2 linked regions of the Homo sapiens genome follow. The protein of the gene in region 1 interacts with the protein of each later gene in a pairwise test. Each region holds a gene or a part of one and is shown in the gene's direction. Other genes may lie near its edges. The genes, in order: ZMYM5 and GTF2IRD1.

Region 1 (7,000 bases):
AGTGACAGAGTGAGACAGGACAAAAAAAAAAAAGAAAGAAAAAAAAAACTGAGGCCACGCCTGTTGTGGTGGCTCATTCCTGTAATCCCAGCACTTTGAAAGGTCCAGGTGGGAGAATCACTTGAGCTCAGGGGTTCGAGACCAGCCTGGGCAACATAGTGAGACCTCACATCTACTAAAAGAAAAAAAAAATTGAAAATTGAGGCCAGCATGTATAATCCCATGTATTGTTTCTGCATACCTACATAACATTCCAATTATACTTACTTTTGCCTTCTTTCAGTTGAGATAGAGGTGATCCTTATACGTGATCAATTTCATTACCACCTGTGCACATGTCCTTATCTCTCATCTGCTTAAGAGCCCCCCATGTTTCATCAGTTATTCACTTCCAGATTTTTCAACTATTGTCTCTGCTAGATTATTTCTGTCATCATAGCTTAGTGCATAGTAAGTATACAAAAGGTTGAGTGTTAACAAGTTAAGAATTTGGGGCTAGGCCAAGTACCATGGCTCATGCCTGTAATCCCAGCATTTTGGGGAGCCAAGGCAGGAGGATTGCTTGAGGCCAGGAGTTTGAGATGAGCCTGGGCAATGTAGTGAGACCTCCTCTCTCCAAGAACTTTATGGAACATTAGCTGGGCTGTGATGGCAAGAGCCTGTAGTCCTACCTACTTGGGAGGCTGAGGTGGGAGGATTGCTTGAACCCAGGCATTTAAGGCTGCAGTGAGCCAGGATGGCACAACTGCACTCCAGCCTGGACAACAGAGCCAGACCCTCTCTCAAAAGAAAACGAATTTTTAGAGCCCTGAGTTTAAGTCTTACTCCCAGTGTTATGTGGAACAATTTAGTTAGCTTCCCTAGGCCTCAGTTTCTTGAACTATAAGAGTAAATTATAGCTACTATCATGGAGTTTTGATAATTTTATTTTCTGTAAAAAGCCCATTGCATAATATCTGGCATAAATGGACTTAATGCTTTCTGTACAAGGACAAAAAAGATGCATAAAGATAATTACATAATTATTTTGGAAGAAGTGATTTTGGAAAGAAAACAATGGCAGGAGACACTTGGGAAATAGGGCCATATCATAAATGCTGTAGTAGGTAAAAGCATATGGAATATAAGTGATTATATTAGGACCCTAAGTTATTGGTATTTAATTTAATTATTTTGTTACTATTTTCTAATTCAAAGGAAGGCAGGCATTTTTTCACTATAAAGAGTGAATAAAGTGAGTACTATAAATTGATTAGAATTTTTTAAAGGACTACCAAAATTATATAATTAATTTCCATCAAGCTCTGAAGTAAACATTAGTTAACAGTAGAGGAAAAACAAAATGGATATCAGGTATCACAAAAAATAATTTGAAAAATTTGCTTGTGCTATTTTATTGTAGTAAAATGCAAAAACCATAACATACTAGAACTTTTTTTTTTCTTTTCTGTCTCTACAGGTTCATTGGCATGGAAAAATGTTCAGTGGGAGGATTAGAGTTGACTGAACAGACTCCTGCTTTATTAGGGAATATGGCCATGGCAACTAGTCTCATGGACATAGGGGATTCATTTGGTCATCCAGCTTGTCCTTTAGTCAGTAGATCTAGGAACTCACCAGTGGAAGATGATGATGATGATGATGATGTTGTGTTTATTGAATCTATACAACCTCCTTCAATTTCTGCTCCAGCAATAGCTGATCAAAGAAACTTCATATTTGCATCATCAAAAAATGAAAAGCCTCAAGGAAATTATTCTGTAATTCCTCCTTCTTCAAGAGATTTGGCATCTCAGAAAGGAAATATAAGTGAGACAATTGTTATTGATGATGAAGAGGACATAGAAACAAATGGAGGAGCAGAGAAAAAGTCTTCCTGTTTTATCGAATGGGGACTTCCTGGAACTAAAAACAAAACCAACGATTTGGATTTCTCCACTTCCAGTCTTTCAAGAAGTAAGGTAAATGCAGGAATGGGTAATAGTGGTATCACTACAGAATTGACTCTGAAATACATTATTACTAATGTTACAACCTTAGAAACAGGTATAAGCTCTGTGAATGCTGGGCAAGATGTGAACATAATTATTACATATAAAACATCACTATAGAATACCAACTTGGGAGATGTCGCTAAAGGACTTCAGTCAAGTAATTTTGGTGTTAATATACAAACGTACACCCCATCTTTAACTCCACAGACCAAGACTGGAGTAAGACCTTTTAACCCTGGTAGAATGAATGTGGCAGGAGACTTATTTCAGAATGGAGAATTTGCAACTCATCATAGTCCTGGTAAGCAGTAAGTGATACTGTTTCTACCTCAAGTAAATAAGCCTTTGGCTGTTCTTTTTAGTAAAGCTCATATCTATTTTATTCACATTCTGTGGCTTTGCTTTTTTTGTTTGCTTGTTTGTTTGTTTGTTTTTGGAGACCGAGTTTCGCTCTTCTCACCCAGGCTGGCTGGAGTACAATGGCGCAATCTCAGCTCATTGCAACCTCCGCCTCCCAGGTTCAAGCGATTTTTTTTTTCCTGCCTGAGCCTCCTGAGTAGATGGGATTACAGGCGCCTGCCACCACACTCGGCTAGTTTTTGTGTTTTTAGTAGAGATAGGGTTTCACCATGTTGACCAAGCTGATCTCGAACTCCTAACCTCAAGTGATCCACCTGTCTTGGCTTCCCAAAGTGTTGGAATTACAGGCGTGAGCCACCACTCCCGGCCTTTGACTTTCATATTAAGATAGAATATTTTACTTAATAAAACTGTACGGTCTACTTGGTCTCTGAAATTTTGGGATTTTAATCTATTTTATCCAGTAAGATTTACATCTAAAATATTTTAATTGAAATACTTTACCTTCTTTACTTTCTTTATATAAAAATCAAAGGATAAAGATACAGTGTAATGAAAGAACAAAGTAATATATAATGATTGGATTTTATTTTATTTATAATTATTTAAAATTTCAATTTTTGCTTAAGCTTTTAATTTTAGGCTGTTTTTATCCCTGATTTTAGTTTTTATTTATTTATTTATTTATTTATTTGAGACAGAGTTTTGCTCTTTTTGCCCAGGCTGGAGTGCAATGGCGTCATCTCGGCTCACTGCAGCCCCTCCCTCCCGGGTTCAACTGATTCTCCTGCCTCAGCCTCCCAGGTAGCTGGGATTACAAGCACGCCCGTCTCCATGCCTGGCTAATTTTGTCTTTTTAGTAGAGACAGGGTTTCTCCATGTTGGCCAGGCTGGTCTCAAACTCCTAACCTCAGGTGATCTGCCCACCTCAGCCTCCCCAAGTGCTGGGATTACAGGTGTGAGCCACTGCGACTGGCCTGATTTTAGTTTTTAAATCGGCGTTTTATTAGTCGCTTAATTCTGAAAGTTGGAAAACTTTCTTGCCTTTAAATCAAGGAACTGTATTTTTAGAACTTATATAGATAGTCCTATTCTGATATAATTAAAACATAACAAGTGATTTTTTAAATAGCAATGCCTTTTTGTTGCTTTTATGTGACTTGTGAGGGGTTTGGGGGAGAGTTGGTATTGTTTTTTTGACCATTTTAGTGTTTATAGCCTGTTGAATTTTAGGAAAGTACTGAAAAGTAACGAGAACCTGAGAACCTAATCATGTTGTTGCCTTCAGGAAAATAGTGCTTTTTCCCTTTTTTTTTTTTGAGACAGAGTCTCTGTCACCCAGGCTGGAATGCAGTGGCACGATCTCGGCTCACTGCAACCTCTGCCTCCTGGGTTCAAGTGATCCCCGGGCCTCAGCCTTCCGAGTAGCTGGGATTGCAGGCGTGTGCCATCACGCCTAGCTAATTTTTTGTATTCTTAGTAGAGATGGGGTTTCACTATGTTGGCCAGGCTGGTCTCAAACTCCTGACCTCAAGTGATTCACCCGCCTCAGCCTCCCAAAGTGCTGGGATTACAGGCCTGAGCCACCGCGCCCGGCCAACTTTTTTCCTTATTTTTAAAATTAATTTTATCTTCTGGTTACGAAATACTATGTGATTATTATAGAATATTTAGAAAAAAATCATAGAAATCAGAAAATATGTCTCCTTACCCCAGTAACTAGAAATAATGTGACCACTGTGAAGAATTTGGTTTGTTTGCTTTCAATCTTTGGTTTTTAAAAATATAATTTAGAGCACTTTTTATATTGTTTTGTATCCTGCTGATTTACTTAATCTAAATGCTAATATTTTATGTCATCATAAAAATATAGGCTGGGTGCAGTGGCACACCCCTGTAATGTCATCGCTTTGTGAGGCCAAGGAAGAAGGATCACTTGAGGCCAGGAGTTTGAACCCAGCCTCAGTAACGTAGCGAAGACCTCATCTCTATAAAAAGTAAAAAAAAATTAGCCAGGCGCCATGATGTGCACCTGTAAACTCAGCACTTAAGGAAGCTGCGATGGGTCAGTTGAGACCTGGAGTTTGGGGTCACATTGCGCTTTAATCCTACCGCTGCACTCCAGCCTAGGCAACAGAGTGGGACTCTGTCTCTAAAAATATGTATATATAAGTTTTAGTAACCACAAAATATTTGTCTGAAGTACTCATTCCCCTATGTATTTTTTTCATCATTTACATGCTTTTTCATTGTTTTGAAGCTACAATAAATACGTATGTTTACATTTTTTATTTTTTCCATAGGGTACTTATTCTCAATTTTTTTGGTCTCAGATTCACTCTTAAAATGAAGACCCCAAAGGTTTCTTTTATTTCTATTATTAGATATATTAAAAATTAAAGCTTTAGCCAGGTATAGTGGCGTGCACCTGTAGTCCCAGCTATTCAAGAGGCTGAGGTGGGGCTGGGCATGGTGGCTTACACCTGTAATCCCAGCACTTTGGGAGGCCAAGGCAGGTGGATCACTTGAAGTCAGGATTTTGAGACCACCCTGGCCAACGTGGTGAAACCCCATCTCTACTAAAAAAATTAAAAAGTAGCCAGGCATGGTGGCATGTACCTGTAGCCCCAGTTACTCAGGAGGCTGAGGCAGGAAAATCACTTGAACCTGGGAGGCAGAGGTTGCAGTGAGCCCAGATCACTCCACTGCACTCCAGCCTGGGCGACAAAGTGAGACTTGTCTCAAAAAAAAACAAAGAGGCTGAGGTGGGAGGGTCACCTGAGCCCAGGAGTTTGAGTCCAGTCTGGGCAACATAGCAAGACCTAATGTCTTTAAAAAATAATAATAATGGATGGACGTAGTAGCTCACATCTGTAATTGCAGCACTTTTCGTAGGCTGAGGCAGGAGGATCACTTGAGCCGAGGAGTTTGAGGCTACAGTGAGCCATGATCACAACACTACACTCCATCCTGGGTAATAGAGTGAGACCCGGTCTCAAAAAATAATAATTACCTGGGTGTGGTGGCTCTCACCTGTAATCCTAGCATTTTCAGAGGCCAAGGCTGTCGGATCACCTGAGGTCAGGAGTTCAAGACCAGCCTGGCCAACATGGTGAAACCCCGTCTCTTACAAAAATACAAAAAACAACAAAAAAAAATTAGCTGGGTATGGTGGCATGCTCCTGCAGTCACAGCTACTTGGGAGGCTGAGGCATGAGAATTGCTTGATCTCAGGATGCTGAGGTTGCAGTGAGCTGAGATCATGCCACTGCACTCCAGCCTGGGCGACAGAAATTTTTTTGTTTCAAAAAATAAGATAAAATCTTAAGAAAAATTAAAACTAGTCCGGGCGCAGTGGCTCACGCCTGTAATCCCAGCACTTTGGGAGGCCGAGGTGGGCGGATCACGAGGTCAGGAGATCGAGACCATTCTGGCTAACACAGTGAAACCCGTCTCTACTAAAAATACAAAAAAAAAAAAAAAAAAAAAAAATTAGCCGGGCATGGTGGCAGGTGCCTGTAGTCCCAGCTACTCGGGAGGCTGAGGCAGGAGAATGACCTGAACCCGGGAGGTTGCAGTGAGCCAAGATCACGCCACTGCACTCCAGCATGGGCGACAGAGTGAGACTCCATCTCACAGAAAAAAAAAAAAAAGAAAAATTAAAACTATTCATTTCACAATAATTACCCATTATATAACATAAATAACATTTGTAATGAAAAATAACTATTTTCAAAGAAATTTAGTGAAAAGTAACATTGTCTTACATTTTTGCAAATCTCTTTAAAATCTGGCTTAATAGAAGACAGGTATATCTGGCTTCTCATATGTATTTCTGTATTGAGTCTGTTGTAGTATTTTGTTTTGCTTGAAGTATAAGAAGAAAATCTGGCCTCACATAGATAGGTGGTTGGAGAAGGGAGGACTATTTTCCACGTCTTTTTAGATGTGGATAGTTTTCTTTTGATGCAGCACCAAAACTTGACAATTAGTAGTTTTCGAGGTTGTTACAATGTGGGATTTGTAACCGTATAATTAAGTTTTCATCACCAGGCGCAGTGGCTCATGCCTATAATCCCAGCACTTTTTGAGGCCAAGGCAGGCGGATCACTTGAGGCTGGGAGTTCGAGACCAGCCTGGCCAACATGACAAAACCCCATCTCTATTAAAAATGCAAAAAATTAGCTGGGTGTGGTTGTGCATGCCTGTAGTCCTAGCTACTGGGGAGGCTGAGACACAAGAATCACTTGAACCTGGGAGGCCTAGGTTGCAGTGAGTTGAGATCATGCCATTGCACTCCAGCCTGGGCAGCAGAGCGAGACTGTCTCAAAAAAATTTTTTTCATACTGTTTATTTTTAATTTTTTTATGTGTCAGCATCCCACTCTGTTTCCCAGACTAGAGTGCAGTGCCATGATCATAGCTCACTGCAGCCTCAAACTTCTGGGCTCAAGTTATCCTCCCACCTCAGCCTCCTAAGTAGCTGAGACTACAAGTGCATGCCATAACACCCTGCTAGTTTTTTTTTTCCTTAAAAAAAAGGGGGGGACTGTATTTGGTACAGACTGGTCTATTAGTTTAAAATCTATTGATTTTGAATGGATTTTTAACCTTTGTATTAATAACATTGTGCATTGGTTATTTGGA
Region 2 (17,186 bases), on another chromosome or scaffold:
GCAGTGGTGCGATCTTGGCTCACTGCAACCTCCGCCTCCCAGGTTCAAGCGATTCTTATGCCTCAGCCTCCTAAGCAGCTGGGATCACAGGTGCCTGCCACCACGCCCGGCTAATTTTTGTGTTTTTAGTAGAGACAGGGTTTCACCATGTTGGCCAGGCTGATCTTGAATGCCTGACCTCAAGTGATCCACCTGCCTCGGCCTCCCAAAGTGTTAGGATTACAGGCATGAGCCACCGTGCCTGGCCTAATTTTTGAAACACAGTCTCACTCTGTCACCCAGGCTGGAGTGCAGTGGCTGAATCTTGGCTCACTGCAGCCTCCACCTCCTGGGTTCCAGTGATTCTCATGCGTCAGCCTTCTGAGTAGCTGGGATTACAGGCATGCACCACCACACCCGGCTAATTTTTGTATTTTTAGTGACCAGGTTTCGCTGTGTTGGCCATGCTGGTCTTGAACTCCTGACCTCAAGCAATCCACCCACCTTCGCCTCCCAAAGTGCTGGGATTACAGGCATGAGCCACTGAGCCCAGCCAAAAGCGTCTTATTAATGCAGAGCTAGCCAAGCAGTAGGACTGGAGTTATTACTCAAATAAATCTCCCCAAGAACTCAGAGGCTAGGGTTTTTATGGATAATTTGGTGGGCAAGGGCCCAGGGAATGGGTACTGCTGATTGGTTGGAGATGAAATCACAGGGGTGTGGCAAACGGTCCTTATGCACTGAGTCGGTCTCTGAGTGGGGGCCACAGGATGGGCTGAGTCATGAGTCACACAGGTCCAGGTGAGTCAGTCGGTTGCCCGAATGCGAAAGTCTGAAAAACATCTCCAAAGACCAATCTCAGTTTCCACAATAGAGATGCTATCTATAGGAGGAAGTGGGGAACTCACAAATCTTGTGATCTCTCGCCACATGACTCCTGAGCAGTCAGATTATAAAAACGATGCGTAGGTTTTAGCAGCGTCCAGGCCCCTCCCATAATCCTAATCTCACGGCCTTTCGTTAGTTTTACAAAGGTGGTTTTGGTCTCTTGTATAAAAAGCAGGTTAGGTTTAAGGAGTAACTATTATCATCCTTGTTTCAAAGTTGAACTATAAACTAAATTCCTCCCCCGGTTAGCTTGGCCTATGCCCCGGAATGAGTGAAGACAGCCAGCGCGTGAGGCTGGAAGCAAGATGGAGTCAGCCACGCTAAACTTCTGTCACTGTCCTAATCTTTGCAAAGGCAGTTTGGCCAGGAGGCTGTGGGGAGACCTTGTGGGTTTTGCCAGGACCTGGGAGATTCTCGATCTATGTTTGGCTGTCCTTCTAAGCCAGAAGCTCCCTGGGGTTGGGGCCTGCCTGGGGTGAGTCCCTCCCTCCCTGCCATGCCCAGTCTAGCCAAGGTCTAGTTCAGGGATCAGGGCACCACGTGGGGGAAGGACTGTGTTCCTTGTGCTGAATTAGGATTTATGGCTTTGGGGCCGGATGGGAGGCGTGCGCACTGATTCAGTAGGAGCGCTGCTGTGGTGTGTGTGTGGTTGGTGGGAGCGGGGCGGGCGGGGGGCGGGGGGGCTGGTTGGGGGGACAGGGGTAAAAGCCTATCAGAGGGAGGTCCCATCAGACAAGATGGGACCAAGAGTCCAGTTGGCTCTGCTGCGACTTTCGGCCTGTCACTGCCTTCCTGCACATCTCAGGGGTGGGAGGGGGACAAAGGCTGTAAGAGTAAGAGGTACCTGGCCCAAGCCTTAGGACTAGAACCCGGGCCAGGCGGGAGTGACCAGCCGGGACACTCAGGGCCTCCGCGCGTTCCAGCTGGGTGACCTTGACCCTCCAACTTCAGCCCCCTGCGCCCGGCTGCTCTCCCAGTGGTGGTGGGGAGCGGTGGGGGTAGACGGGGGCGCGCCCAGGCTTTTCTAATCCGGCGCTGGTGGGGGAGAACCGAGGGCGCCACCGCCCCTCCCCGCAGGTCCGGGGCCGAGGGGTGCGGCGCGCTCTCCCCACCGCGGTGCCCAGGTCCCCGGGACGCAGGGGCGCTGGGTAGCAAGGGGGGTGCGCAGGGGCGCGGGGCGCGGGGCGGGCTAATCCCGTATGTAAATGGCAGCCAATGGAGGGTGGTGTTGCGCGGGGCTGGGATTAGGGCCGGGGCGAATGGCTGGCAATCTTACTGGGATTACAGAACAAAGAGCCTCCCCGCGCTCCCGCTCTCCGCTCCTCTCCCCGCGCCGCCCCGCCCTCCGCCGCAGCCCGCGCCGGGGGTGGGGGCCGCCGAGCGCCAGCCCCCCGGCCGGCCGATTCCCCCCCCGCGCCCCCTCCCCGCGCCTCCCTCCCCGCCCTCGCCGCGCCGCCGTCCTCGCCTCCCTCTGCCTCTCCTTCCCCCATTCTCCCGGATTAATTAAGGAGGCAGCGGCAGGAGGCTGAGTCCTGGCCGCGGGCCGGGGCCGGGGCGCCGCTGGCAGGAGCGCTTGGGGATCCTCCAAGGTAGGAGAAACTTTTGCGGGGGGCGGGCACCGAGGCCCTTCTCCCCTTCTCCCCCACCCCCGCCCCCGATCCCCTCCGCCTCCGGGGGGGGGGGTCCCCGCCCCTCCCCCTCTCAAGGTGTTACAGGAGCTGGGGCCGGCTTTTGGGTGCCCGGGGAGGCACGTGACTGGGATTATAATTCGGGCCCGGGGGGAGGGGAGGGACGGCCGCCCCCCACCTGCCCGGGAGGGGCCGGGAGCTGGGAGCTGTCACCCCCTCCCTCCTTGCCACCGGCTCTTCTGGAGGTGGGGGGCGTCCCGGGCCGGCGCCCGCAGGCTGCTGCAGTTGGCGAATGAGGTCAGTCGCGCTGCCCGCGGTGGCGGGCGCCGGGGTGGGAGCAGAGGGGGCTGGGAAGGCCGCGGTCCCCGCCTTTCCCCCCTCCACCTTCTCCCGGTCTGGGCCAGCCCCTGGCCCGCGCCCCCAACTCCCAGGCGGAGTCCAGTCCAGCCAGGATTGCCCCAGCAGGGTGGTTCCTGTAGTGGACCCCCCGCCCCGGCCCCGGGGAGGGGGCTGGCCTGTGTGGTGGTGGCCGCTGAATCCCGGGTGGAGGGGACTCAGAAGGTGGCAGTGGGGGGACCACAAAGGGTTCAGAGGAGTAAGTTGGGGATACTCGGTCTGTGGGTGGTCTCTGAGTTCCTGCAGATGGGTGGAGAGGACAGAGGAGGGGCCACAGGGTGCTGAACACCCACCCGCCCCATCCTAAGTACCCTGGGCATGATGGGCTTGACACCTCTCCTGGGCTCCTCACCCCTGGCCAGCAGCCAGGGAGTGAGACCCTGCCTCGCCTGGCGTGGGCCCAGGGAAGGGGGCCGCTGTGCCGCTGAGAGTTCGTTCCACCCTCCTGGCAGTGCTGGAGGGGGCTGGAGCTCTGGCGTCTGGCCTAGTGACCCTACCTCCCAGGACCAAGGTCCTGCGGTGGGAGTCTCCTGTGTCCCCATCCCAGCTGAAGCGAGGGTGCTGGGACATAGGGGTCTCGCTGCAGGGCCTGTGAGGGGAGCACTGACTCTTGGATGGAGAATGTGCCAAGGGGTACCCCGGGATGGCCCTGGGCCTGGCGGGTGGGAGTGGAGGGCAGGCCCCCGCAGTTTTTGGAGAAGTGGGCATTTGCTGGGGTTTCTCTTAGAAGAGGAGAGGGGTGTCTAGAAGCCACCCTGGCGCGCCGCTGCCATGGTCGGCCTCTGTGTGTCTGGCTGCCCCGTGGCCAGGACTGTTGACTCCTTGGCACTGGCCCGGGGCCTTGGGACTTGGAAGGTGCCCCAAGCAGCTCATTTATTTCAGCAGTGTCATTCCAGAGGGGAAGGGCACCAGCATCGATTATTTATTCTAAGCAGGAGGAGGTGGCTGGAGGCTGGTGGCTGCTGGCAGGGAGGGGCTAGGTATAAGGTAGTTAGGTGGCCGTCATGAACCGCCCTATTTGGGGCCCAGGAGGGTGTGAGATAGACTCTGACCTCTTCTGAGCAGGCATCTGCGGACCAAGGGACAGGCTTGGCCCCAAGGTGACAGGGTATCGGAACCCCCATCCTGCCTCTGGGGTGTGGGAGGCTCAAGTCCACACCTCGTTCTTCCACAGCCTGTTCTGAGGGTGACCTAGAAATTGGCAGTTCTAACTCAGAGGGTCCCACAGGACCCCACAGAGGAAACTAGGAAGGAAGGGTTGAAACTCCGCAGCCACTCAGAGCCTGCACTCTTAAAATGTTCGAGAACTTAAGGCCGATGGTTGTAAAACTGGGTCTTGAAGACAGCTTTGTAGGGGGCACGCTAAACCTACTTAAAAGGACTGTTCTCTCGATGTTGGGAGAAGGGTCATTTATTTGCAGTATGCTAATCACAAATAATTTTTATCTGTTCATTGAAGGCAGCCTCCCAGGAGCCCGGCTAGCCTTCTGATGAGGTGGTAGTCGTCAGCACTTGGTGTTTGGCAATAGTCTGAGTGGCAGCTGTAATCTAGGGTCTTGGAGGTAGCTGTTTTTGCAGCCTGCTTGACTCCAGAGGCCAGGCCATCCACGGTTTGGTGACAGCTTGGTTGTTGGACCTGGGGTCTTGTGGATGGTGGGTGATGGCTTGGGACATTCACGTCCTAAGCATGACCTTGGAACCATAGACTGCAGCTCCCAGATGATTCTCATTCAGGGTCTAGTCTCTGACCACTCACTGCTTCCTCAGCCGACTCATAAATCCTGTAGTCTGGCCGGGCGCAGTGGCTCACGCCTGTAATCCCAGCACTTTGGGAGGCCGAGGTGGGTGGATCACGAGGTCAGGAGTTCAAGACCAGCCTGGCCAACATGGTGAAACCCCATCTCTACTAAAAATACAAAAAATTAGCCAGGCGTGGTGGCAGGCATCTGTAATCCCAGCTGCTCGGGAGGCTGAGGCAGGAGAATCGCTTGAACCCGGGAGGTGGAGGTTGCAGTGAGCCAAGACCGCACCACTGTACTCCAGCCTGGGCAACAGAGCAAGACTCCATCTAAAAAAAAAAAAAGAAAAAATTCTGTAGTCTTGCCGTTTTCCTGAATGGCCTGGCTTCCTCCTACCCCTGGCCTCTGCACACACAGTTCCTCTTCTCTCGAAGGTTCTTCTTGGCCTTTCCCCTGAGGAGGCTGGGGGGCTTCCTTTATTAGCCCTGCCTGGCTAGGGTAGGGGGTCAGGATTATAGAATTTGCCTCTTTTCCTCTCCTTCAGGACTTGGCTTGGCTGTGGTATCTTTGGGCTGAAGACTTCCTCGTCCTCAGGGCTGGCCATGGTTCCACCTTTATATCCCCATGATGTCCTCTCTTTTTTTTCTTTTTTTCTTTTTTTGAGACAGTCTTGCTCTGTGCCCAGGCTGGGGTGCAGTAGTGTGATCACAGCTCACTGCAGCCTCGAACTCCTGGACTCAAGCCACCCTCCCACCCCAGCCTCACAAGTAGCTGGGACCGCAGACAAGGGCCACTACACCTGGTTAATTTTTTATTGTTTGTAGAGATGGGGTCTTGCTATGTTGCCCAGGCTGGTTTCGAACTCCTGGGCATGAGGAGTCCTCCCACCTTGGCCTCTCAAAGTGCTGGGATGACAGGAGTGAACCACCGCGCCTAGCCAACATCCTTTCCTTCCTTTGTCCCAACATTGATCTTACTCAGATGTTTACATCTCTCTCCCCAATTGCACTAGGGACAGGAAGGGATGGAGGCTTGCTCCTCAAATACTTGTTAAATGGCTACATGTTTGAATGAATGAATGAATGAAATCCTGCTCTTGAGCCTTGACCTAAATGGCTAAGCAGACTCTCTCCTATTTTTCTTAAATGCTCATCTCTGGGGCAAGTTCCCCACCCTGGTAGGAGTCCCAGGGTCTCTCCCTGAACTTCCTGGGGCCCCCTCTCTCCCCACTACCCCAGCCTGTGTCTTCTCCCAACCTTAACCCTGGGGGCTTTGCTCCCCAATGTCATCCTCTCTGTATCTCTCAGTTCTCTGACTCTCGCCGTTTGTAAGTATCTCTCTCTCAGATGCGTGGCAGCCAGGGTCACAGCCAGGTTCTTTGGGACAAGCCAGGGGTGTATGCCCAGCTCCATGGGGCCTGCAGAGGCTTCAGGGGACACCCATGGAAGAAGACCTGCAGGGCCAATTTATAAACAGAGGAGCAGAGCAGGACCCAGGGCTTGGAATCCATGCTGAGTTACGTTTTTGTTTTTTTTTTTTTTTTTTTGAGAGGGAGTCTCACTTTGTCGCCCAGGCTGGCATGCAGTGGCGCCATCTCGGCTCACTGCAACCTCTGCCTCCTGGGTTCAAGCGATTCTCCTGCCTCAAGTAGCCGGGATTACAGGCATGCTCTACCACGCCCGGCTAATTTTTGTATTTTTAGTAGAGATGGGGTTTCATCATGTTGGCCAGTCTGGTCTAGAACTCCTGACCTCAAGTGATCTGCCCGCCTCTGCCTCCCAAAGTGCTGGGATTGCAGGCATGAGACACTGCGCCCGGTCCTGAGTTCAGTTTTGATTGGGGGGCTTCCGGGATAATATGGGGCCGCTAGGACAGGGACCCTTAGTGTGACTGGAAGGGAATTTCCTGAAGGAATTCATAGCAGAGGTGGAGTGGTGGGAAGGATGGTTTCTGGGGGAGAAGGAGATGCGTGAACCTGGCCAGAAGACAGTGTGTTGTGACAGATGATTGCTGGTGAGGGGGTAACAGTCTCCAAGGTGTAGATGTTGGGGGCTCCAGATACGGCAGGAGGGGCCTGGCCTCTCGGAATCCCCTCAGCCCCATCTCATAGAAACATGTGCTTTCTACCCAGGCTCCATACTCCGGAAGGGAGGCAGGACCCTGTCACTTTCTTGGCCTACTTTGGAAGTTCTCAGTCAGGTATCTCCAGGTGTGGCAGAGGGGCTTTGGCCTGTAGGGGGTGTGGTAATGTGGGTTTTGGAGGCAGAAAGCTTTTCAGGAAAGCCCCCTGGTCCATCACCCCCCTTTCTTTTTTTTTTTTTTGAGATGGAGTCTTGCTTTGTTGCCCACGCTGGAGTGCAGTGGCACGATCCCAACTCACTGCAACTTCCACCTCCCGGGTTCAAGTGATTCTCGTGCCTCAGCCTCCCGAGTAGCTGGGATTACAGATGTACACCACCACACCTGGCTAATTTTTGTATTTTTAGTAGAGACGGGGTTTCACCATGTTCGCCAGGCTGGTCTTGAATGAACCCCTGACCTCAAGTGATTGGCCCTCCTTGGCCTCCCAAAGTGCTGGGATTACAGGTGTGAGCCCCCAGGCCCGGCCTCATCATCACTTCTTCACCCACCCTATTTTGGTAGCTCTCTCTCCACTCGTCCTGTGGAACTGATCCATTCTCGGTCCCATTCCCTTCTCTCTGGGCCAATCTGCACCTAGGTTTGTGGCTTCATGAGTATGGAGGGTCGTGCAGAAAGGGGCCAGGTCTGTAGGAACCTGGGTTCATGCCCTGGAAATTTGCCCATTTAAGATAAGTTAGGGCCGGGTGCGGTGGCTCATGCCTGTAATCCCCAGCACTTTGCACTTCGGGAGACCGAGGCGGGCGGATCACCTGAGGTCAGGAGTTTGACTAGCCTGGCCAACACGGTGAAACCCCATCTCTACTAAAAATACAAAAATTAGCCAGGCGTAGTGGCGGGCGCCTGTAATCCCAACTGCTCGGGAGGCTGAGGCAAGAGAATTGCTTGAACCTAAGAGGTGAAGGTTGCCGTGAGCTGAGATCGTACCATTGCACTCCAGCCTGGGCGACAAGAGTGAAACTCTGTCTCAAAAAAAAAAAGATAAGATAGGTGTCCTGAATAAGATAGGTGAAATGGGTGAGGATGTACTTTATCTTACACGGTCTTAGGGAGTGTCTCAGGCGGTGAACAGAACTCTCTCGCCCCTGAGCTGGGGCCTGGCTGACCCAGAGCTATTTGTGTGCCCACCTGTCACCCTCTTTCAGGACCACCTGCTTCAGGTTGCCAGATTTAGCAAATAAAAATAAGGATGCCCAGCTAAAATTGGATTTCAGACAAGCAAGGACTAATGCAATATTTGGGATGAACTTCTAGCTAAAAGTTACCTGTTGTTGATCTGTAGTTCAGACTGAACTGGAGGTCTTGCATTTTATCTGCCAACCCTACAACTGCTGCCTCTGGGGCGGTGAGATGGATGGGGTTTGGGGAGGGGCCAGAGGTGTGTGTGGCTGACCCTGGAGTTGGGATCAGGGCTCAGTGGAGGCCCCGGGGATGATCTGGAGCGAGTTTGAATCGAGTGGAGCTGATTCACTGAATCTTGGCTTTTTTTTTTTTAATTTGTATTGAAATGAGGTCTCACTCTGTCACCCAGGCTGGAGTGCAGTGGCACAATCTCGGCTCACTGCAGCTTCTCCCTCCCCGGCTCAAGCGATCCTTCTGGCTCAGTCTCCCAAGTAGGTGGGACCACAGGCACACGCCACCGTGCCCGGCTAATTTTTTGTATTTTTGGTGGAGATGGGGTTTCGCCATGTTGCCCAGTTCCTGAGTTCAAGTGATCTCAAAGTGCTGGAATTACAGAAGTGAGCCACTGTACCCAGCCAGCAGGGTCCTTTTTCATTTTTATTTTATTCTATTTTTTGAGACAGTGTCTCACTCTGTTTCCCAGGCTGGAGTGCAGTGGCGTGATCCTACCTCACTGCAACCTCCAACTCCTGGGCTCAATGTGATCCTCCCACCTCAGCCTCTGCACCTAGCTAATTAAAAAAAAATTTTTTTTTTTTAGAGATGGGGTCTTGCGATGTTGCCCAGGCTGGTCTCAAGCTCCTGGCCTCAAGCGATCCTCCCACCTCAGCTTCCCAAAGTGCTGGGATTACAGGCAGTATCCTTCTAATGTCCTTGGTCGGGCCTCCTCCAGCCTGTGGCTCGAGGGTCTAGATCTCCTACTGGCCTGGGTGGCATGGAGGGTGTAGTCTAGGTGGCCTGAGGGGTGCCCAGGGATCCCCAGTTTGGGAAGTCCTTGTCTTCAGGGATTTCTGGCCAATGTGGTCCGTATATTTAGAGATGCTGGGAGGAGGGGGTGGGAAATTGCTGGAAACACCCTATTATACACCAAGTAAGATTTTCATGTAGGATTGGCAAGGCCTGAGTGCTGGGAAAGTGTCTGCAATGGCTACCTTTCAAAGCTGGGAGACCCCGCCACGGGGGCGGTTGTGGACTTGAGGGGCTGACCCCACAGCACGGAGGCTGCTGGGAATTCCTGCACCTTTGCCATGCTGCCACCTGAGGCAGGTTCCCAGCACCTGAGCTGCAGCCTCTGGAGTGGGGGAAATGGGGGGAAAGTAAGGGGCCGGGGTCATGGGGTCCACGTCCACCTTCCGCCCGCCTGGGCAGTTTTCTTGGATGTAAAAGGGAGATGGCTCTCCCCAACCTGCCTGGGTCCCAGTGTGGTGCTGTAGTCCAAGGGACTTGGTGTGACCCCGTGGGGATGCCACAGCATGGGTGTGTGGGACCCCCGGGGGCAGGTCTGTGGTGGAGACAGGGTGGGAGGGCCTGGCTTGAGGGCTTGCGGTCCTGGGCACTTGAGGATGCAGAAGAGGCTGCATGGTTGGGGAGGGTAGGTAAGCAGGGGGCAGCTTAGCCCTTTCCCCTCCTGTTCCCTGTGACAGAGGGGAGACCCTCCAGGCTGTTTGTGTCTTAGATGGTTGGCCGAGGGTAGGCCTCTTTGCTGGCTGGGGTCTAGCAGGGTCTCAAGGTGCATTTTCTGGCTACTGGCAGAACCACCATCAAAGCAAGTCCGTATCTTTTCGTCTATCCATCTGTTGTTACGCCAGCCAGTGAGGACCTTGCAGAGGCGTCAGGCCTGAGGGAGTCTCATTAGGTCCTGGTCCCCAGCCCCCGGCTGGCACATGAGAAGGGCCCACTTTATATTTTATTTTATTTATTTATTTAAGATGGAGTCTCACTCTGTCACCCAGGCTGGAGTGCAGTGGCGCGATCTCGGCTCGCTGCAACCTCTGCCTCCCGGGTTCAAGCAATTCTCTTGCCTCAGCCTCCTGAGTAGCTGGGATTATGGGTGCATGCCACCTCGCCCAGCCAATTTTTGTATTTTTAGTAGAGATGGGGTTTTGCCATCTTAGCCAGGCTGGTTTTGAACTCCTGATCTCAAGTGATCTGTCCACCTTGACTTCCCGGAGTGCTGGGATTACAGGCGTGAGCCACTGTGTCCGGCCCCACTTTATATTTTATTAAAAATATCGTTGAGGAGTGAAGGCTATGCTATACCAGGAACTTGCCTGGCTCACACCCTTATGTCGTCCAACCCCCGTCAAGACATAGAACAGCGCTTTGGGAGGCTGAGGCGGGAGGATGGCTTGAGGCCAGGAGTTTGAGACTAGCCTAGACAACATAGTGAAACCTCCATCTCTACAAGAAGTACAAAAATTAGCCAGGCGAGGTGGCTCATGCCTGTAGCCCCAGCTACTCAGGAGGCTGCGGCGGGAGGATCACTTGAGGCCAAGAATTTGAGACCAGCCTGGGCAACATAGCAAGACCCCGTCTCTTAAAAAAAAAATTAGCCGGGTGTGGTGATGTGTGCCTGTAGCCCCAGCTACTTGGGAGGCTAAGGCAGGAGGATTGCTTGACCCCAGGAGTTAGAACAATCCTGTAACCCCTAAAAGTTTTTGAAGCCCGTTTGTTCATCCTTGTCTCTTGTCCTGACCCCAGCAACCACTGATCTGTCTTCTGTATATGGTTTTCCATTTGTACAATGTCACATAAATGGAATCCTACAGTCCACAGCCTCTGAATCTGGCTTCACACAGCATAATGCATTTACGGCATTGCTGGGTACACGGGTAGCTGGTCCCTTCTGGTCCCTGAGTAGTGTTCCATGGTGTGGATATGCCACATACCTCTAGCCACTCTCCTCTCTAGGGAAATCTAGCAAACCGGCTTGGCCGGCCCTGCATCAGCTCGGGACCCCCCAGAAGAAGGTGGTTCCTCTTTCTCATTTTCACAAAGGCACCATCTGGCTGGCGGGGGGCCTGTGGCCTGCACCCCATCACTACCCACCCCCCACATCAAGAGCTGACCCCAAGCCGGGGGAGCTGCTCATCTCCGCCCTCAGAGCTGGAATTTCATCTTCTGTTTCTGGTGACTCATACTGTGAGCCCCGCGATGAAATTACACCTGCCTGCCGCTGCCCTCCGGGCCTCTGGCCCCATGCGATCCTCCCGCCGCCATCCAGGTGGGCTCTGGAGTAATTGAGGCTATGGGGCCAGGACAGCTGGAGGTTGAGGGCGGTGCCAGGGAGGGGAGCTGTCTGTGCCCTGGGGTGTCTTGCCCATCATCTTATGTATCCCCACCCTGTGGGAGTCTGGGGTTCCTGGTGGTGCGTCTCTGGTCTTCACTCCTGCAGCTGTTTTGCTTGGGGTAGAAGTTTCATGTTTGCCTGAAATAAGAGCAGGACTTCTGAGGGTAGGGAAGGAAGGTGGTGAAGCCACTGTTGCAGGCAGGAGCAGGAGTTAGGATCAAACGGAACAGGGCTGGCCGAGTGATGTCACATCTCTGGGCTTTGGTTTGTTCATCTGTTCTTATTATTATTTTGAGACAGGGTCTCGTTCTGTCACCCAGGCTGGAGTGCAGTGGTGCAATCATAGCTTGCTGCAGTCTTGAACTCCTAGGCTCAAGTGATTCTCCCACTTCAGCCTCCTAAGTAGCTGGGCTTGGAGGCACTTGCCACTACACCCAGCTAATTTTTTTATTTTGTAGAGATGGGGGTCTCGCCATGTCGCCCAGGCTGGTCTTGAACTCCTGTGTTCAAGTGATCCCACAACCTCAGCTTCCCAAGTGCTGGGATTAGAGGGGTGAGCCACTGCGTCCTGCCTGTTCATCTTTAAGTGGGAGAACAGAACACTAGGTTTGCAGGGCTGTGAGACTCAGCTGAGGGTAATGTGAGTGTGTGGATTACCACAGAGCCCTGGAGGGCCCCAGGGGCCACCAAGGAGCGGGTGGTGGGGACATGTGAGGCTCAAGCCTCCTGTGCCCCTTTGGGCCAGAGTAGGACCACTGTTGTTTTTTGTTTTTTTTTTTTTGAGACAGAGTCTCACTCTGTCGCCCAGGCTGGAGTGCAGTGGCGTGATCACGGCTCACTACAACCTCCGCCTCCCGGGTTCAGTTGATTCTCCTGCCTCAGCTTCTCGAGTAGCTGGGATCACAGGTGCGTGCCACCACACCCGACTAATTTTTGTATTTTTAGTAGAGGCGGAGTTTCACCATGTTGTCCAGGCTGGTTTCGAACTCCTGACCTCAAATGATCCACCCATCTTGGCCTCCCAGAGTGCTGGAATTACAGGTGTGAGCCACCGCGCCCTGCCCTAGGACCACTTTTACCAGAGTTACCTGTTAGAGCTCTAAATACAGTTCTGGTTGCTAAATGTTTGGAATCCACTGCTGCCTGAGGTCAGCCCTGTGTGAACAGTGGCTATTCTGGTGAATGTTTTTGTGGCTAGAGCCTAGATTATGGTGGTTTACGGACTCCAGCCTGTCACTTGCCTGAGGCTGAGCCTCAGTTTGACCCTCTAGAAAATGGAACCACAGCAAGTACCTCCACAGGTTTGCCAGGTGGGCATGAATGAAGCAGGGGAGCCCAGCAAGAGTTTGTCAGTTTCCCATTGGCAAATCCATGAGTTTCCCAGGGCTCTCGGCTTCCTAAGGAGATGGAGCTTCCTGGGTGATCACATGTCTTGCGTGGGTGTCTTGAGAGATTTGGGGGGTTTTTACTTTGTTGTTTTTGTTGTTGTTATTTGTTTGTTTTTGAAACAGAGTCTCCTTCTGTCACCCAGGCTGGAGTGTAGTGGTGTGATCACGGCTCATGGCAGCCCCCCTCCTCCTGGGTTCAGGCACTTCTCCCGCCTCAGCCTCCCAAATAGCTGGGATTACAGGCACCTGCCACCACACCCGGCTAATTTTTGTGTTTTTAGTAGAGACGGGGTTTCGCCATGTTGGCCAGGCTGGTCTCGAACCCCTGACCTCGAGTGATCCACCTGCCTCAGCCTCCCAAAGTGCTGGGATTACAGACATGAGCACAAGCCACCGCGCCCAGCTGGTTTTTACTTTGTTATTTAATTTGTTATTTGTGAAATCGTTGTGGCCCCTCTCTAATGAAGGTTGCCCCAAGTACCTTTCCCCTGTACCCCACCCTTGCCTCCCACCCCTACCGGGTTCCCCAAAGTCCTCAAAGGCTGGACCCTGGGGCCAGCACTCGGTGGGTAGCCTGGAAAGAGGTTAGCCCTGTGCAGGAAGGAAGGCCCTTGGGTGCTCCTGGGTGGCTCCTTGCAGCAGACAAGACCCACCGCCCACCCACCTGGCTCCAGGGTGGTCCTGGCAGCTCCAAGGGGTCTTGTGACTCTCTCAGTCTGATGTTTCTCTCATGTTTATCCAGGAGCTGGTTTTTCAGGCATGGCCGCTTCTTGCAGTGAGGCCAGGTGGGGAGAGGCAGGGCTTTGGGGAAGGAGGTGGTTACCTCTGCTCCCAGGGCACACCCTGGCTGCCAGCTGTGGGTGCAGCCCTCTGGGCAGGTGGGCAAACCACATCCTCCCTCTTTGATCCTGGTCCACCTCCCCACCTGCCCCGGGCCACCAGCTCCCTGAGATATTCTCTTCTCAGCATATCCAAAGGAGAGATGCTCTTGGTGGCCCTGGGTCAGAGGCCAGGGCTCCCTCACTTCACAGCAGGGTGCAGTGGAACCATCAGGGTCTTTGAAGCCAGACACACCTAGGTTCAAATCCCAGCCTGACTGCTGAGCTGCTGTGTGACCACAGGCAAGTGACTGTACCTCTCTGAGCCTCATCTGAAAAAACAAGGATAGTTTTCTTATATAGTATTGCCAGGTTCTTGGGAAAATCAGTGTATTCAGTTGCGGGGAGCTAGCTGCCATCTCAGTGAAGAACACTTTGTCAGCTTGTCACGTGATGACCCCAGAAGCTGGCCCTGTGGGAGCCCCACTCCCCCAGACAGTGAACCTTGGACCCCATCATTCCAAGATCTGTTCTTATTTTCTGCCTGTCTGGGACACACCCCCTCTGTCCGTGGGGTGTGGGGTGTGGGGTGTGGCATGCCTCAATTTATTTATTTTTTTTGAGACAGAGTCTTCCTCTGTTGCCCAGGCTGGAGTGCAGTGGCAGGATCTCGGCTCACTGCAACCTCTACCTCCTGGGTTCAAGTGAGTCTCCTGCCTCAGCCTCCCGAGTAGCTGGGATCACGGGCGCCCGCCACCATGCCTGGCTAATTTTTTGTATTTTTAGTAGAGACAGGGTTTCACCATGTTGCCCAGGCTGGTCTTGAACTCCTGGCCTCAAGTGATCCACCCGCCTTGGCCTCCCAATGTGTTGGGATTATAGGCATGAGCCACTGCACCCGGACAGCATGCCTCGGTTTCTGCTTCTGCAAACTGGGAAAACCTCAAAGGTAGAACTGGTTGGTCCCCTTGGCCTGCCGACCCCTTAGCCCCTCAAGGTCACAGTCAGCCATCCCGCTTGTTAGAGGCCAGGCCCTGTTCTGGGGCGGGGGCTACCTGTGGCTGCTTAGGGGACGGGAGACAATGCCACTCCCAGGTGTGTTTGATGGCAGCCTGCAGAAGTGGCTTTCTGCATGGCCCTGGAGGACGGTGATTTGGACAGAAGCGTAGGGCCAGAGACAGGACGTGACGGTGGGGCTGCTGCATTGGCTCCAGGTAAAGATCTGTATCTGATGGCCTCACTCCCAGGCAGCTCAGGGGTTCCCGTGGCTCCTGGAAAAGCTACAGACTAGGCATGGCCAGGCCCTGCCTGTGTCTCTCTGTGCCAGCCACGATGAGCCTCATCGTTTCTAAAACGTACTGTGCTCCGTCTCGCTTCCTGGAACGCTGCTGCCTCTCCCCTAGAGCGTGCGTAATGCTCCCCGGCTGTGTCCCTGGGCTGATTTCTCGTTGCAGGTCTCAGCTGGGTTGTCACTCCTCTCTGCAAAGCTTCCCTGACCTCATCTCCCTCTCCAGGTCACGTTAGGTGCCTCTTGTCTGTGTCCCCAGCCACAGCCCGCATCACAAACAAGACTATAATTGCCCTCGTGCTTGTCTGTCACCTTCACAGACAGAGTGTGACTTCCAGTGGGTCACGGCCCCATCATCATGTTGTCCTCCGCATCCCTGACCTTAGCACCCTGCCTGTTGCGGAGTGGGCATCCTGTGCAACCTTGTCAAGTGAATTAGAAGCAAGCTCGGGGTGGGGGCCCATGAAGGGTGGGGGCCTCCTCCACCCTTTTTCTTTCTTTTTTTTTTTTTTTGGAGACAGGGTCTCGCTCCATTGCCCAGGCTGGAGTGCAGTGGCATGATCTCGGCTCACTGCAACCTCCGCCTCATGGGTTAAAGCAATTCTGCCTTAGCCCTCCCCAGTAGCTGGGACCACATGCACCTGCCAACACACCCGGCTAGTTTTTGTATTTTTAGTAGAGATGGGGTTTCATCATGTTGGCCAGGCTGGTCTCAAACTCCTGACCTCAAGTGATCCACCCGCCTCAGCCTCCCAAAATGCTGGGATTACAGGGGTGAGCCCCCATGCCCGGCCCCTCTCCATCCTTCAATCCCAGCTCTCGTTGGCGCTCCTCTACCCATCCCAGGAGCTGCTTCTGCCGGCCTGGCTGTGGCGTTCAGAGGCATCTGGAGGGCAGTGGCGATGGCAGTGGGGGCAGCTTGTCTCTCTGAGCCGAGTACAGCCCAATTTGGAGCGTTTCCCTCCAGGAAAGGCAGCTGATGTGTGCAGACAGCACAAGTGTGGAGTGCCAGAACAGTTAATCCTCTGGGCTATTTATTTATTTATTTATTTTGTTTTGTTGTTGAGATAGAGTCTTGCTCTGTCGCCCAGGCTGGAGTGCAGTGGCGTGATCTTGGCTCACTGCAACCTCCACCTCCCAGGTTCAAGCGATTTGCCTGCCTCAGCTTCCCGAGTAGCTGGGATTACAGGCATGCACTACCACACCTAGCTAATTTTTGTATTTTATTTTGTATTTAATTTTTTATTTTTATTTTTTGAGTCAGAATCTCGCTCTGTCACCCAGGCTGGAGTGCAGTGGTTTGATCTCGACTCACTGCAACCTCTGACTCCTGGTTTCAAGCGATTCTCCTGCCTCAGTCTCCTGAGTAGCTGGGATTACAGGCGCCCGCCACTGCTCCCGGCTAATTTTTGTATTTTTAGTAGAGACGGGGTTTCACCATGTTGGACCAGACTGGTCTTGAACTCCTGTCCTCAGGTGATCCGCCTCTGGGCTATTTAGACACACATGCTTGTGTGCATGCATGGGTGTGTATATGCACATGTATGTGACATTCCTGAGGCCACCGGCGGTGACGAGGCCTGATTACTTGACGTTCTGCTGAATCCTGACTACTAGCCTGGAGCTTTACTCCCCAGTGTACACAGCTCCCCGAGTCCTGGTTAGTGGTAAAGAGGGGACTGTCCCCTGTCATTTAGGGCTGCATTTGGCTACAGGTAATTAAACACCCAACTGTAAATATAGCAAATATCTAAATATTAAGCCAGGTCAGGTGCAGCAGCTCAGGCATGTAATTTTAGCACTTCGGAAGGCCGAGATGGGCAGATTGCTTGAGCTTAGGAGTTTGAGACCGGCCTGGGCAACGTAGTGAGACCCTGTTCTCTACAAAACATAAAAATAATTTAAAAAAAAAAAAAAAACCCAGCCAGGCCGCAGTGGCTCACTCCTGTAATCCCAGCACTTTGGGAGGCTGAGACGCGCAGATCACAAGGTCAGGAGTTCAAGACCAGCCTGGCCAACATGGTGAAACCCCATCTCTACTAAAAATACAAAAAATTAGCCGGGCGTGGTGGCACGTGCCTGTAATCCCAGCTACTTGGGAGGCTGAGACAGGAGAATCACTTGAACCTCGGAGGCAGAGGTTGCAGTGAGCCAAGACTGTGCTACTGCACTCCAGCCTGGCGACAGAGCAGCGAGACTCCATCTCCAAAAAAAAAAAAAACTGTGTGTGTGTGTGTGTGTGTGTGTGTGTGTGTGTGTGTGTGTGTGTAGCCTGGCAGACTTTAGATATTAAACCTGACAGTTAAACAAAAAGGAGTTTATTTATTCCTCATAAGAAAATATGGAAGGGCCGGGCGCGGTGGCTCACGCCTGTAATCCCAGCACTTTGGGAGGCCAAGGCAGGCAGATCATGAGGTCAGGAGAGCGAGACCATCCTGGCTAACATGGTGAA

The links.
Region 2: the proteins of ZMYM5 (region 1) and GTF2IRD1 interact in a two-hybrid assay, tested with the Homo sapiens proteins (one study listed by BioGRID and IntAct).

What each region holds. Positions count from the first base shown.
Region 1 is NC_000013.11:19,846,650-19,853,649, reverse strand, and holds part of ZMYM5 (zinc finger MYM-type protein 5), read left to right. Parts: intron 1-1,459; coding exon of another isoform or gene 1,460-1,469; coding exon 1,470-1,961; intron 1,962-2,201; coding exon 2,202-2,295; intron 2,296-7,000. UniProt on the Homo sapiens protein: Functions as a transcriptional regulator.
Region 2 is NC_000007.14:74,451,721-74,468,906, forward strand, and holds the start of GTF2IRD1 (general transcription factor II-I repeat domain-containing protein 1), read left to right. Parts: upstream 1-2,185; 5' UTR 2,186-2,456; intron 2,457-2,658; exon of another isoform or gene 2,659-2,792; intron 2,793-2,801; exon of another isoform or gene 2,802-3,090; intron 3,091-17,186. UniProt on the Homo sapiens protein: May be a transcription regulator involved in cell-cycle progression and skeletal muscle differentiation. May repress GTF2I transcriptional functions, by preventing its nuclear residency, or by inhibiting its transcriptional activation.